2 separate regions of the Homo sapiens genome follow, and region 2 is linked to region 1. The links come from fine-mapping of genetic effects on gene expression. Tissue or cell type: whole blood. Region 1 holds a variant in brackets; the other region holds the start of a gene. All regions are shown on one strand. Distances are between the middles of the regions.

What was found. PIP is the estimated chance that this variant, and not a neighbour inherited with it, causes the effect.
Region 2: it holds the start of LRRC58, and the variant in region 1 is fine-mapped to the expression of LRRC58 in whole blood (INTERVAL, PIP 0.98).

The regions. Positions count from the first base shown.
Region 1 is chr3:120,421,228-120,429,333 of GRCh38, reverse strand. All of the region lies in intron 2 of FSTL1 (follistatin like 1), which reads left to right. LOC124900546 (a long non-coding RNA gene) reads left to right here. Exons shown (of 2, transcript XR_007096030.1): 2 at 5,258-8,106. It also overlaps the pseudogene BTNL12P. Among named protein-coding and RNA genes, the nearest start is that of FSTL1, 26 kb to the left of the region's middle. The variant T/C (reference allele first, on the strand shown) is at 4,792.
Region 2 is chr3:120,345,857-120,353,962 of GRCh38, reverse strand. LRRC58 (leucine rich repeat containing 58) reads left to right here and starts at 4,609. Exons shown (of 4, transcript NM_001099678.2): 1 at 4,609-5,219. The coding sequence starts at 4,720. It also overlaps the pseudogene BTNL12P. RefSeq lists a silencer at 4,614-4,943 and an enhancer at 5,294-5,343.

The DNA.
Region 1 (8,106 bases):
ATTAAACTTGCAGCCTCCCTCACTGATCCTCACTCAGCTCCAGAAAGCCCCAGAGACCAGAGATTACTCTTCAGCACAAACTCTCCTCTGAGAGTTCCTCATTCCTTCCTTTGGATGCCCTCTGAAGGGAGCCCTTGATGTGCATTTGAAATTGCTCCAGGGGTGGGAATGGGGATTAGGAGGAATTTGAGGGAGAGGGCCTTCTAGAGCCTGGGCGTGGGCAAGCTGGAGGAGCCAGCCATGAAGCCCAAGCATGATGAACACCACTGGCATTTCCTTGGAAGACTGTATTCCTCGGACTCCAGGTTTTCCCCACTTTCTTCCTGGCCAGCAGTTGCTGTGGCAACACAATGTCTGAGAACTTCTAATTACATCTGTCTGCTTCTCCTAGAACCCTACTGAGCCACACATATGGAGACTTCATTTAGCTTTGAGTTTCTTGCTGGGTTTTAACCCTGTCTGCATCCTTAGGCTAGAGAATAATTGCCAGGATGCTGGAACCTTAACTGCTTTGCAGCCACACTACCCCCAGAGATTCCCAGGACTTTGTCCCTGTTTTTTGTTGTTGTTGTTGTTGTTGTTGCTGTTTGTTTTTTGTCTGAGACAGAGTCTCACTCCGTTACCCAGGCTGGAGGACAGTGGTGCAATCTAGGCTCATTGCAACCTCTGCCTTCCAGGTTCAAGCGATTCTCGTGCCTCAGCCTCCAGAGTAGCTGGATTTACAGGTGCAAGTCACCACACCCAGCTAATTTTTGTATTTTTAATGGAGAGGGGGGTTTCACCATGTTGGCCAGGCTGGTCTCAAACTTCTGTCCTCAAGTGATCCACCTGCCTAGGCCTCCCAGAGGGCTGGGATTACAGGTATGAGCCACTGTGCCCGGCCTGTCCTTGTTTTTAAAGTGGAGACTGGTGCTACTTTGCTATGCTGGGTCTCCCAGATCCATTTTGTTTCAGTCAACCCTGACATCCCTACTATCCCCCCAGCCTCCACCATTGTATCAGATGGTCTCACCTCTTGGTTGGGCATCACAGTTCTTACTAATGTGCCCAATCCAAGGGGAGATAAACCACGTGGGCACACCTAAGGCTTTGCTGTCCCGGCAACTCGTGTTTCAGTGTATTCCAGCCCACTGCAAGGTCAGCCTAGTGGATGAGACAGAGGGGAGTAGTTAGAGATCCCCAGAATATTTTGGGAGTGGAGGAGGGGTAGAGCAAGGCAAGAAGCTTTTTTCCTGGTCTAGAAATGTTGGCCAGCCTGTCTCCCTCTACCTCAGAAGACAGTGTAAGGGCGGGGTTCCTCAGAAGAGTTCACGCAAAGCACTGGCCTCAGATAATAAGCCCATTTCCACAGTTTCTCCTGCCTTCTCACTTGCTTCTCTTCATCTCTACTTCCCCCTAGTATAGGCCCCCAAGGTATCAGGCAGCTCTTTGGCTGCCCCTACCCTATACTCAGAAATCTCACCCAATTTTGCTTTGCTCTGAGATACCCCACATTCCCACATTACCTTATCTTCCTCTTCACCAAATTCTCATTCTCTCAGCATGTCTCAGTTAGGTTAAATATTTAAACTGTGGACAAAGGAAATGACTGAAAGCCATTTTCGTCCTCCGTTGCTCTTCTACCTCATTAACACACATATGCATGCACACACATGCACAAACACACTCTTCAATGTCTTTCTGTGGGCCTAAGACAATCTCTAATTAGTGAAATTCCAGGCTGAATATATATGGCCTGGTGGTGGAGGGCAGGGTCTTTAGGGTATTTCCTCAAAGAAGACCAGTTCTGGGAGGGAGCAGCCCCAGGAAAGGAGTTGGCACAGGTGTTGTTCCTCTCTGTCCCTATCCCAAGTCCCCAGGGCAGTGTGGTTCAATCCACCTTTTTTTGCTTTCAACAAAGGTTAATGGAGTGGCACAAGGTATACTAGGTCCTACAAAAGGATGGACAAACAGAATCTTTGTCCTCTAGGAGCTTGTAGTTCAGCCAGAAAGACAAAATCCACACAGTCAGTTCTGTTTTTAAAAAAATAAATGATCAAAATGAGTTCATACAAAGAGGAATCAAAGTTCAGAGAAGGAAGGGGGAATTCATACCAGTAGAAAGTAAAAGGTCACTGAGGATGGAGTGGTGTAACTTGACCCAAGCCTTGAAGGACAGGGAGAATTTGGGCAAGCCAGACAACAAATCAGACTTCCCAGATGGTGACATTATTTTTTTAGGTGGTCTTGTGGGACATTCTCTGCCTATCTGAAGGTTAAAGAAGCATCTGACAATTCCTCATCATGCTGACATTTTCAAAGGCTAATGAGTTCTCATTTCAAAACATAGAGCCTTGGGAGCCCTAGACCCTTTTTTTAAATTTTAGTCCACTTACAGCTTAAATCTGCTGTGGCTACCTGCTCTGCTTACAGACACTTCCCAAAGCTTTCAGTATCCAGGGTCCCTAAGAAGTGGAGGGTTGCTCGAAGTGAGGAGCCCACAGATCTCGAGGCTACATGAACAATGAAGTCACCCAGGAGAGAGGAAAAACGCCCTGTGCCATATGCCAAAGACTTTGTTAACAGTGCCCAGGTAGAAGGCAGTAGGTGACAGTGTCGGGCATCCAACTCAGTGCCAGGGCATGTGGACCACCGTCGAGAATAGTGGCTTGGCTTGCAGGTTTAGGGGGAATCATGTGCAAATTGGGGTAATGGAAAGCAGCCACAGAAGTGATGGGGGTACTGTTCCAGCTCAGGGAAGCAAGCAAGCTCTCTGCCACAGTGGATTCTATTCCCAGCAGGTCTGTGGTATCAGGAACCACCCAGGGACTACTTAAATTCAGTGGCACCCAAGGCAAAAATGGGTGGAGTGGAGAACTAGATACCTCTTAGGCGATATCCATCTCATCTGCCTTCCACCATATCAGGGGAATAAATCCTACATTCCACTTGGAACTCCAAAGAATGCAAATCCTAATGGGTTCAGGGCTTGGGAAGCTGGGGGTGGGTGGAGGGTGGGCTTGCATGGGATGGAGGGATGGGAATGTGTAGGGATGTTGGCCCAGATGTGGCAGGCACTGCAGGGGATGCTTCTAAAACTGCCTGTCTTGAGAATTTTCCCACAGCTGCCCTAGAGCTTTCTCCCTTCTTTGATTTGAAGGTACTGGGATTTAGGTGTGTGGGAATTTTTTTTTTAAACTTTTGATCAACCATTTTCCTTGAACTACATGTGGAAATAATTAGAGCATGAATGCTGAGTAAATGTGAGCCCTGGCAGCCCCAGACATACTTCAGTGACAGGTTCTTGGCAGGAATGAAGAATTGTGAATCGCATGTGAATTTCCTTTAGCCTTTCTCTCCTTTCTTTTCTTCCCTTTTCTCCTTGCAAGGCAAATGCAAGTAGAATAAAAAATTTATTAATAGTATTCTAGGGGAGTAGAGGGTTCCACCCAGTTCACTAGAAACAAAATCAGGACACTCAATTGGGGTTCCATTACTGCTTCCCTGATTCCCTCTGCCATGATCTGGGAGGGAATGAAAAGGCATTGCTTATGAGAATCCTTTGACTATGAGAGCCAACTTTAATCCCCCCTTCAGAACCTAGCAACACCCTCATGTGACTGTATACATAACCACTTTCTTTAGTTTGGCCATTTAGGTTAGCTTCCTTGGGAGAGTGAAGTTTGATATTCAGGAACATCTGAAGTGGTAAATTCCTGAGCTTTCTAATTAATAGAATTCTTACAGCTTAAGGGACTTAGGCATCATCTATAACCTCTGCATTTTATAGCTGAGGAAACTGAGGCCCAGAGAGGTCAAGCACCTTGCCCCATGTCACACCATATGTTAGAGGCAGAGATATATCCAGGGCCCATTTCAGTCCTCCTGCATTAATTCTTCTTACACAGGACATCACTGCCTCTGCCTGGCTTACACTCCAGGTTACTAGTTCAGGTTTCAGCAGAAGTTTAAAAGCTTTTTTTTTTTTTTGGCTGTTTTATCCCGACATTTGCCAAATGATTTCTCTTACATGGCATTCATCATCCATTTCTGGGAGCTCTCTAGGCTTCCTGGTTTTCCTCCCAATTCTCTGAATGTTCCTACTCTACTCTCGGCTGCTTTGCTGTCAGAGTTCTCATACCATTGTGCAGGCTGTTGACTGCATGAGGAGGTGACAGGGGCTGAAATCCAAACTACACTCTGCTAGCCAAGCCCCATACCCTGGCCATGTGCTGCATCTCCTGGAGAGAAAGGTGCCTTTTCTGATTTGCACAGAGACCCCTTGTGGGCTGCTCTTCCTGCTGTCTGTGCTCCCCCTTTTCCTTCCACGCCCTAGCCGCCCTCGGCCTTCCATGCCCACCTTTTTCTCCTGAGCTCATTTGTTCCTCTGCCTCAATTTCTCACCCCTACACAGGTGACGCCCAGATATGCATCTTTAGCCAATATTGGCAGCTGTCGGTGGGATGTTTCACTGTCCTTGAGACGCGTCCATAACTGACTCATCATTGCCCACCCCACCCTCACGGGACACCTTTCCCAGACTTCATTTCTGATAGAGACACACAACCAACCCTCCAGGCCCTAGAAGCCAAAGATCTGGCAGCCCCCCAGACTCTCTCCTTCCTCTCTCTATTCAGGATGTTGCCAGACCTCGTTATTCTGTAGAGATCTCTCTTGGATCCCTTCCTTCTATAACCATGCCACCACTAGTGTAGATGCAACTGTCATCACCCCAGGCCTGTTCCAACTGATATCCTTCTGCCTGCCCCCAATTCCGCCTTACCCATTTCTTGCCATGTGCCACTGTTCAAA[T/C]GTTTTTCTTAACACTCTCCTGCTCAAAAACCTATAGATTTTCCATCCACATCCTACCTTTCTTAAGAGCTCGGCTCAAGTCCCATCTCTTCTATGAAGTCCCATCTCCTGGAGTCGGCCCCATTACTTAGGACTGCATTGGCCTGTATTCTTGTTTCATCAGCTCAACTAGGTTAGACACTCCTGTGGTGGGGGCAGCCACATCCTCTGCTCCTTTTTGGGTTTTTTGTTGTTATTTTTAGAGACAGGGTCTCACTCTGTCACCCAGGCTGGAGTGCAGTGGCATGATCCTAGCTCACTGCAGCCTCAAACTCCTGGGCTCAAGCAATCTTCCCACCTCAGCCTCCCAAAGTGCTGGAATGACAGGCTTGAGCCACTGCACCCAGGCCTCCCTTTTGGGTTTATGCCACGGAGCTTGCGCCATGCTCATTACAGACCGTTCTCTTTTTTTGTTTTGCTGTTACAGGCATTCATCAAATAGCATTTTGATGGGTTTAAATCATTTTCCTTGGCCATTACTGAAGAAGACTGGAGGATTTATACTCTCTACATTGGCCTTCAAAGTGGACAAGTCTTAGGTAGACAATTGGAGAGGAGAAAATAAGAACCATATTCAAACCTAACAAGCTAATTCAGGGCAGATAAATGGTCTGTATTAGAAACTTCCACTTGGACTTTCCTAAGAAACCGAAGGGTGAAATTATGAAACTAGTGGCAGCCTTACAAAAACATTTTTTAGGAAGAGTGACAAGATATCTTGGGAACTCCTAAGAATCACTCTGAGGAGTGTTGCTTTCATAATGGGGAGCCCGAAAGACCCTGTCAGTAGCAGTGGAGTCACTGGGTGTTCCTGTGTTGAGAAGGCGGTGTGGTATGTCACAGGGGAGACTCTCCAACTCGTCACTGTGGACCATGAGAACAGAAGCACCTCTCTCAAGTACCGGAGTTGGAGCCACCTGGGTCTGACTCTTACCTCAGTCATGGCCCAGCTCTTGAAGTCACAGTCTCCTCAGTGCAAACAGGGATGAATCCCTGAGCCTCACAGATCTTTGTGAGATGATTTTCAGCCCTATATGAACAGGCCTAACATGTTTCTAACTCTGTAAGTGCTTACTATACTGCTATACTTCTGCTATGACTAGACAAGACCATTGCAGAACACAGGAACCGATCATTCTATAGAAACCAAGCATCTAGTGTGCTATGCTGTGTCTGGGCCACCTCAAGAAAGCTCTAAGCATAGGCAGCATGAGGCATTCCAGAGATGACATGTGAGCAGCAGTGAAGGAGAGAGGCTTCCGTGTGAAGGTGGCCTGAGCCAACCTAGATTCTTCAGTCTGAAAAGACACATAGAGAATGTGACAGAATCTGTAAAATAATAAAGAAAATGGTGGAGGTAAACATCACTGTCCCATTTGAAATTTGAATATAGTAATTTCCAGGCACACAATACGCAATGAGTAGTAAAAGGAACATGTTATATCCCATAAGCTGTGATAGAGGCTAAACATAGAAATTAATCAAAGGGTAATTAAATAATTCTTGATTGACCGGGCACAGTGGCTTAGGCTTGTAATCCCAGCACTTCGGAAGGCCGAGGCAGGTGGATCACTTGCAATCAGGAATTCGAGACCAGCCTGGCCAACATGGTGAAACCCCATCTCTACTAAAAATACAAAAATTGGCCAGGCATGGGGGCGTGTGCCTGTAATCTCAGCTACTGGGAAGGCTGAGGCAGGAGAATCGCTTGAACCCGGGAGGTGGAAGTTACAGTGAGCTGAGATTGTGCCACTGCACTCCAGCCTTGGCACCAGAGCGAGACTCCATCTCAAAAAAAAAAAAAATTATTGATTGACAGCTTCATAATAGATTTTTTTAAATCTTAAAGCTAATCTTCGTCAGGCGATATATCTCTTATCTGGATGTCATGGAGCCTGGCCATACTGACCCAAAAACATCCGAAGTGCCACTGTTGGCTGCTGCACTAACCTGAAGAGACTGTAAATGACATTTTAAAATAATTTTTGTTTATTTTTAAGCAGCTTTATTGAGATATCACTGACATATAAAAATTGCATATATTTAAGGTGTACAAATGTTTTAATGTTTTAATATTCATATATATGGTGAAATGTTCACCATAATCAAGCTAATTAACATATTCACTACCTCTACATAGTTACCATTTTGTGTGTGTGCATGTTGAGAAAATTTAATTTATGATCTATCCTCTTAGCAAATTAAAAGTATACAAACAGTATTATTAACTATCATCGCCATGCTGTACATTAGATCTCCAAAAATTACTCATCTTGCATAACCGAAACTTTGTACCCCCAAATGACATTTAATATACAAACCATTTGTTGAGCATTTTCTCAGGCAGTACACTGTGGTGGGTCTGGGGGAAGCTGAAGTGTGCAAGGCTCTTAGAGTCTACTTGAGATAAGCCATATGTGCATCAGATATTGAATAGGACTCTCTCTAATAGACTAAGGACCCAAAAGCCATTATTGGAAAGATTTTGTTTATGAAGAAAATAATAGGGCAAATGGGGAGTTGGATTACCATGAAGCTAATTAAGCTTTGATTTCAGACCTTTTATTTGCAAGGGTCTTGCAAGGCCATTTACCCAATTTGCATTTATAATTGTATATTTTTTTAGCCCTCCCTAAACCATTTAAGCTTGAGGCCCCACAAAACCAGGGTTTGGCCCTAGTGCATTAACCTTGAGATGAGGGACTGATTGTGAGCACATATAAGGAAGGGAAACTTATAGCAGGGACTGCACACATGCAGTGCCCCCTGCCACACACATCAGAACCACTGCTAGAAATCACCAGTCCCTCCTCCTCTGTCCATAGCATATGCAGGATGTACCAACACATTTCTTTCCAGAAAAAAAGAGAGACTTGAACAAGGTCATGAGATACTCCAGCAAGGTTTCAAGGTCCTGAAGCGGTTTTGCTCTTTCTCTCTGCTTTTCTCAGGCCTGTGCTACTGGGTTCCAGAAGAGCTGCCTGGGAGCAACCAGCATCTCACCCCATACGCCCCACTGCAGACCTCCCCCTGCTCTCCCCAGTTCTGTGAATTCCTTTGTCCCCAGCTCCATGGTATTCTGTGTATATCTGAGGGGCCCTGGTGTTCCTGTGAAGTTTCCATGACTAATTCTGGCAAAGCAAAGAGAGCCTTTCTCACGTCAACAAAGCCACTCTGTCGCAGAATAGTGGCAAGTAGAGCCAAAATTCCACCTTGGCATAAGTAGAGCTGTTCTTTTTTAAAAGAGTTGGAAGGAGGAAAAGAATGGAGGGGACA
Region 2 (8,106 bases), 75 kb after region 1:
TAGCCTAAGCAACTGGCCTTCATCTGATAAGCAATGAGGAAACATGGGGTAAAGGCAGGAGGAAAAGAGATGGGTTGAAATCATGAAAGCAGTGCTTTAGAAAGGACAGTCTGAATCAGAGGTGGCTAAAATAAAGGTAGGAGTGGGTTTAGCAGGCATGAGGTCCTGATATACCTTGAAGACAAAAAAGACAATAAGCATAAATCTTGGGCAAGAGAGGTCAGACCAACCTCCCAAATCCTAATCCCTAAGACACAGAATGGCCCAGAGCAGAGGACCATGGTTTATGTAGGAAATTGTGCAATCATGAGTAAAGACTGTTCTCAACTTTGTTTTTCTACCCTGATCATGATATAACAAGTGGCAGAGAGCAATAGTTATAACATTAACTACTATTACAGCTAATAATAATAATTGCCACTACTTACAGAGTATTGACTTTGTGCTAGGTACTATGCTAAGCACTTTAGATTTTCACCTTACAATGACCCTATGGAACAGATAATATATTTTATAATACAGATGATGAAATCAAGCCTTACAGAAATTAAGTAACAAAATCAAGATTAAGTAAGAGAAATCTGATTTCCAGAGGTGGGTTTTGAAACCTGTATCTGATAAAAACCAAAGCCCACTCTTTTAACTGCATCAGTATGCTGCCTCCTAACTAGAATGGTTTATGAAAGGATTCTCTACTTAGATTATTTCTTGTTTTTTCTGCAGTCAGTAGGTCAATAGGGCCTATTTAAGTAAGGTATGTCAAAAACTATTCATGCATTTATTGCGTTCACTCACTATTTGCTGCCTACGATGTCTTGGGGGATACCATGGTAAACAGATGCAGTTCCTGCCTTCAGGAAGCCTAGAAAGGGTAGCTGAAGGAGGAGGAGAATTCATTTGGTCTCCTAAATGTCCAATACTATTCCAGTCAAGAGACTTATCTTGAAATGTATTCAATTGGCCAAGCCTGACATAATGGTGAAGTTCTGATAAGTGGACAAACAGGCCATGTACTTTCCCAGTTCCCTGTAACCCATGTTCCTTTCCCTATGTAACATATTCTGTTGTCTCCTCTGTCCTTTACCTTCTCCAGTGCCTCCACTCCCCTCTCAGGCATCTCTTTCAGCTAGCCACAGATGAACCCCATCACTGTGGGGGTTCACAAGCCACCACAGCTCTTTTACCTCCCAGAAAGTTTTCAGTATTCTCCAGGCTGACTGGAGGGTTTCAAGGGCCACTGTAAGATTGGGGGATGCTGCTTCATTTAAACCCATCTGGCTGCAGTGAAAAGAGATACATCCACGTTAGCTAAGATAGAGAAGGGTTATTATACTGGGCAGTAAGAAGATGCTCACATTTAATCCAGCTGTTAACAAGTTGGCCTCAGTGAAGCTGCACCTGGTGCGTTACTCTGGATATGAGGCAGTCCTAGATTTCAGCAGCAATATTTTATGAATCTTCACACTTATGTTTCACAATTGACAAAAAATTAGCGACATTCCCCATGTCTGCTTCTTTCTGATTCAACTGTAATTTCTTTCTGATCTGCCACCAACTGGAATTTCCCTCTGGGTTCTTTGGATTAAATTCCTGGGCGAGTGAGAAAAAAAAATAATCTCTGCTTCTGTTTGGGCAGTGCCTTATAAGTGACAGGCCACCAGGCAGTCTGTTGATGGGCTTACCTTGGTCAGATGTCCACTATGGCTCCGATCAACATAGGTTCTAAAGTGACGTCATATGATACAAGGACAGCACCCCAAATTATGTTTGGTTCAGGTGCCTCTGCTCCAGTTTTGTGTATGAAGCCCACAAAACCCCCAATCCTTAAGACAAGTGCCGTATAATTCCAACAATCACAATATTTCAAAGTACCATCAATGGATAGATGCCACTTGTAATACTGACACTATTTGGAAGATCTTATTGCTTTGAATCATTTAAAACAAAAAACAAAAAAAACTAAGCTCAAGAGAGCAGTGTAGTGTAGTGGAAAGAACATAGACTTTGGAGCCACACAGCCCTAAGGCTGAATTTCTAATTAGCCTTTCACTCTCTGTGATAGCAGACTTTACTCATCATTTTTGAGCTTGAGTTCCCTCATTTCTAAAATGCGGATAAACATTCTTATTTATAAATGTGGCGATAAGTAGAATTACATTTTTTAAGGTTTGTGATAAAAGGTGTTTGATAAATAAAAATTCCTTTTCAACTAAAACTTAATATTTACAAATATATTCAGTGTTTCAAAAGATATAGAGTACCTGTACCTACTGTGGAGCAGGCACTGTTAGGGGATGGGTATATAATAATAAGACAGTTCTTTTCAAGGACTTTACAATTTACTCTAATTATTCAAAAAATAAGTCCACTAACTAAGAGATATATCCAACTCAGTCAATCCAAATTATTTGCAAGAAATCATACTAGGCAATGGGGGATGGTGGTGGTGTGAGGGAGAATCCAAAAATGAATAAAGATAGTCATTCTATGTAAGTAGGAACCTACTCTAATTGGACATGAGATGTGCATTTTACACTGAAATTTACAGTTTCCTTGCCAATAGCTTCAATGAGGCAGAAACACAGTTTTCAACTTTTAGAAAGCAGTTTCTCAGTTATCTTAGCTGCTCAATGGTCTGGTTACATTTATCCTAAATTCAACAACCAAATAGTTGGAGACTTTATTAAATTAAAAGCTCCTAGTACAGCGTTGCAAGCAGTAGGTTTTCAAAATTTGTCAGGTTACTCATTTCTTTACCTACACCACTTTTTTTCTACTTCCTTTCCTTTATTCTATATAATGTGGAGTTCCCATACTAAGTATTTTTTTCCAAACTTTCTACTAGGAAGCCTCATTTGCTATTATTGAGGTTATCTTTTTCCCTTTAATTCCACTGATTTGTAATCTTACCTCTTATTTTATTTTTCTTGAGACAAAAAAAAAAAAAAGTGCAGGGCAGTGGCACAATCATGGCTCTCTGCAACCTCTACCTCTTAGGCTGAAACAATCCTCCCAGCAGCCTGTGTAGTAGTTGGCACCACAGGCGAGCGCCACTAGGCCCGGCTAATTTTTGTATTTTTTGTAGAGACGGGGTTTCCCCATGTTGGCCAGGCTGGTCTGGAACTCCTGACCTCAGCGATCTGCTGGCCTGGGCCAAAGCACTGGGATTACAGGCATGAGCCATGGCACCTGGCCAACTCTTATTTCTGAATTATGTTTGAATCCTTTCTTTTTCTCATTTTACATTACGTTCCTATCACTTTTTAAAATCCAAGATAAATATTTTAAAGCAAAAACAACTATTATTTTAAATATTTGTTATTTTCAGATATTAGGACTACTGTTAGAATGCTGGCTTGACCCAAAATAAGGTCTGTTCTTAAAAGGACTCTTTCAAAACAGATGACTCATCAGTTTTAAAAAGCATTCCACCATTAGCTTAAACATACAAAGTACGTCCTTCTAGGACTACCACTCAATCAGAAATTAAAGTTTGACTGCAGAGTAAAGGCATAGTTTCTCATACAAATAAATGACTGGCAAGAAAAAAACGACTTTCCTTTTTTAAGGAGGAAAGCAATTTAATGTCGTTGATTATACACGACCACTTAACTTTCTTATGTATAAGCTTTGTTAAAAAAAAAAAAAGCTAAGCATTTTTTCTCATTTCTATTCATTACTTTTCAAAATCATAAAATGTAATTTCAGAAAAGATTGAGTTTGGGACAAGGATGAAAAATACGTTAATTAGAATTACTAAATTAGTACCAGATCAGGATTTTCCCAAACTGTAGTTTTGACCTGCAGTACAAACTCTATGCTTTGAGTTTTTAAACTAACTCATTAATTTGAGCTATCTCAAATCATGCAACCGCCTCCATATCTCCCAAATTCACTCCTAGACACAACTTACACCAAAAGCCACGTATGTGCTTCTACAATTAAAACGGGCAAAACGTCCTTACTTGATACACATTTCTGCCTTAAAAAAGAAAAAAATAATTCTGTGGGGCAAGTAGTGCGGGTGTTACCCATATTTTATGCATGGGGCAACTGAAATCAAATCCCTGCCCTAGGCTATTTAACAGCGGAACCTCCAGTAAGGGTCCGGGGGTTCTGAGGTCTAGTCCAGCTGCGTTCACATTTCGAGGTCGGCTTTGTTAATCCTCGGACTTTAAATTCCTGCGGTTTTCTGTCATGGAGCTAAATCACCACTAAATTACTGTGTGCTCACAGAGTCCTGCAGACACGGGCCCCACTTTTAAACTGAAAAACAAGCGGGGGACGGGGGGGGCACGTGACGCGCGAACCCTCAAGGCGAGATAACCGAACATCCTTGGGCTGTTTGCCGAGGCAGTCTTGTAGCCCTGGAATAGGTCACCAGGCTCCAGCGACTATAAAGCGCGGCCGCCGAAACCCGGTCCGGCTCAGATGACAATTTGGCAGCCTCTGGGTGTCTGCCTCAGTTCTGCGCAGCCCATGCTGCGCTCTTGCCACTCCGCGCCCCGCGCCTCGTGAGGCAGAGCCCGCCCCGGAGCGGCGCGCGCACCCCAGGACTCGCGTCGCGTGACTCGGCCAAGGCGCGCAGGGTTTGCGCCCGCCCGCGCCACTTCCGACTCAGCCCTCGGTTCAGGTTCCGGGGCGCCGCAGAGCTCCCGGCCTCTGGACCGCGCGCGGCGCTCTGGGGAATCCGGCGCCACGCGCCGTGCGGTGGCCAGGATGGAGGAGGCCGGAGCAGCGGTGGTCACGGCCGGGGAGGCCGAACTGAACTGGTCCCGCCTCAGCGTGTCCACCGAGACGCTGGAGTCTGAGCTGGAGGCGCGGGGGGAGGAGCGGCGCGGGGCGCGGGAGGCGCTGCTGCGGCTGCTGCTGCCTCACAACCGTCTGGTGTCGCTGCCACGGGCGCTGGGCAGCGGCTTCCCGCACCTCCAGCTGCTGGACGTGAGCGGCAACGCGTTGACCGCGCTCGGGCCGGAGCTGCTCGCTCTGCGCGGCCTGCGCACGCTGCTGGCCAAGAACAACCGGCTCGGCGGGCCCAGTGCGCTGCCCAAGGGCCTGGCCCAGTCGCCGCTCTGCCGCAGCCTCCAGGTGCTCAACCTCAGCGGCAACTGTTTCCAGGAGGTGCCTGCCTCGCTCTTAGAGCTGCGCGCGCTGCAGACCCTGAGCCTGGGCGGCAACCAACTGCAGAGCATCCCGGCTGAGATCGAGAACTTGCAGAGGTGAGCGGGTGTGTGCCGGAGGGTGGGGAGGCCTCGGGCGGTGTCCGGGAACCCTGGGGCGCCGGGCCTGGGCACCTCAACGTTTGTCACGTAACTATTTCCAAGCTTTCTCTTTAACTGTGCGGTAGTGAGTTCTGCCCAACCATCTCAGCAAGTTGTTGTAAATACCTAGTATGTTCGCATGTGTGACTGTTTGGTGTGTTGTGTTTGGCCTATGCAGATTCTCGAGGCATTTTTTCTGTCTTCCTTATTGAATCTGGGGCGTGATCCAAACTGAGTGGAAACTCAAAACAGATGTAAATCAGAGGTTGTCACTTCTTTGCTCAAAAGTCTTCCGTGGATTTCCATCTCTATAGATCAAAGTACGTGCCTTTGAGCGTGGCGTACAAGGTGCTCTGATCTAACCCTTGCTTTCCACTACATTTGCAGCTTCCTCTTCTCTGTGGCAGTACCAACTACCATTTGTGGAGTTCAGTGACCTATGCATTTTCCCACGTAGAGAAAGCAGCTTGGAGTTGCTGGTAGGCACTCAGTATGTGTTGAATGGATGCAGTGCCTCTGTACACGTGCTGTTTCCCTTGCTTGGAATGTTTCCTTCACCTGGCAAACGCCTATCATCCTTCAAAAGCTATCTCAAGTTAATCATCTCTGTGATTCCTTTTTTACTACTCCCTGCACAACAATTTTTTTCGTTACTACTCCCTGCACAAAAAAGTACAGCCTATGCTGTACTTTCTCTGTGCTTCATTCATCTTGCCTTTGCATTTACCTTATTGGATATGATTCCTTGTTTACAGGAATTATCTGCTTCACCTACTAGATTATGCAGTAAATATGTTAAATTTAACTTTAGGAGGAAGCAGAGAAACAGGATAATAAAAGTGCCCGGTGGGGGAGTGGGAAATAGAGCCAAATGTATTGTACAAAACGAAAAAGAGGTATCTTCCATCTGTAAGATATTTTCACACTTTATTGTATTTTCAGAGATAACAGAACGTTAAAGGTAGAAGGGACCTCAGAGTTAAGTGGAGCAAAAGAATATTGGCCTGGGAAGGCCGGGCGCGGTGGCTCACGCCTGTAATCCCAGCACTTTGGGAGGCCAAGGCAGGTGGATCATGAGGTCAGGAGATCGAGACCATCCTGGCTAACAAGGTGAAACCCCGTCTCTACTAAAAATACAAAAAATTAGCCGGGCGCGGTGGCGGGCGCCTGTAGTCCCAGCTACTCGGGAGGCTGAGGCAGGAGAATGGCGTGAACCCGGGAAGCGGAGCTTGCAGTGAGCCGAGATTGCGCCACTGCAGTCCGCAGTCCGGCCTGGGCGACAGAGCGAGACTCTGTCTCAAAAAAAAAAAAAAAAAAAAAAAGAATATTGGCCTGGGAAAAAAGAACTCTTGGTGCTCCAGCCTTAGGCAAGTCACTTGTATCCTAACTGTAGCGTATCCTAACTGTAGCTTTCTAATCTACAAATGAAGCATTTGGGCAAGATGTCTCTTCATTTACTCTTCAATAGATATTTATTGAATACCTGCCCTGTGTCAGGCACTGTCCCAAGTATTGGGGATACAATGGTGAACATGATCCAGGAGACAGACATTAAACAACTAACTATGAACCTCATTATTTAATTACAGTGGTTATGAGTTCTATGAAGACCTACAGAATGCCTTGAGACAAAATGACAGAGGCACATGGGAAAGCCCAGAGGCAAGGAGGGTAACTACTAAAATTCTGAAAGAAGGACATTGTACTGGGAAGTGAGCAAGAGGGAAAGTGGCAAATATAAATTTGGGCAAGTCAGCCCGTGTCAGGTCTTGAAGGCTATGATAAAGTTTGGATTTTATTCTAAGTGCACATGAGAGAGTTTTAAGCATGTGTCTTGTTGCTATGCAAGAATGGAGTGAGGAGAGGGTGAAGAGATAGAGATTTTGAGGGCTGGTTTGAAGGAGGTCATTGTAATAGGATGAGAGATGATGGTAGCCTATACCAGCTTGATACTAGGAGAAATGCTAAGAAATGGAAGATTTCGAGAAAAGATTTAGAGGTAAAATTGACAGCCCTTGGTTCCTTCTAATTTTAATGTTGCATAATTCCAGCCTTGGAATTTTCTTAATATACTAACAGGAACCCAGGGAAAGTATTATTTCCATCACATGGGGAGAAAAGTAGGCAAAAATCCCATTTATTTAATACTTACAATGCAGTAGATCCTGTCATAGGTGCTAACTATGCTTTTTAATACTCACAATGATGCCATAAGATGATGTGCTCCCATTTTTCAGAGGCAGAAACTGAAGCTCAGAGAAATTAAGTCATAAGATTACAAGGCTAGTAAGCATTGGAACTGTATTTGACCTCTGTGGTCTGTGACTCCAAACCCTTGAGTTCTGCACAGTGGCAGAGTACTAGAACCTGAATCTTTGTTGGGGGGTTGGAGGGTCATGGTTTTTTGCTTGTTTTTGTTTTTTGTTTTTTGTTTTCTGTTTTTTTGAGATGGAGTTTCACTCTGTTGCCCAGGCTGGAGTGCAGTGGCATGATCTGGGCTCACTGCAATCTCCGCCTCCTGGGTTCAAGTGATGCTCTTGCCTCAGCCTCCCAAGTATCTGCGACCACAGGAGCGTGCCATCACGCCAGCTAATTTTTGTACTTTTAGTAGAGACAAAGTTTCACCATGTTGGCCAGGCCAGGCTGGTCTCAAACTTCTGACCTCAAGTGATCCACCCACCTCTGCCTCCCAAAGTGTTGGGATTACAGGCGTGAGGCACTGCACCCAGCCTAGAACTTGACTTCTGTACTGTTGGATTTGTGATCAGGAGGATTTGTCAAAGTCATTCACATAGTTGACTGATCTTCTGACTCAGTTTTCTGGGCTAACAACCGTGCTATCTGT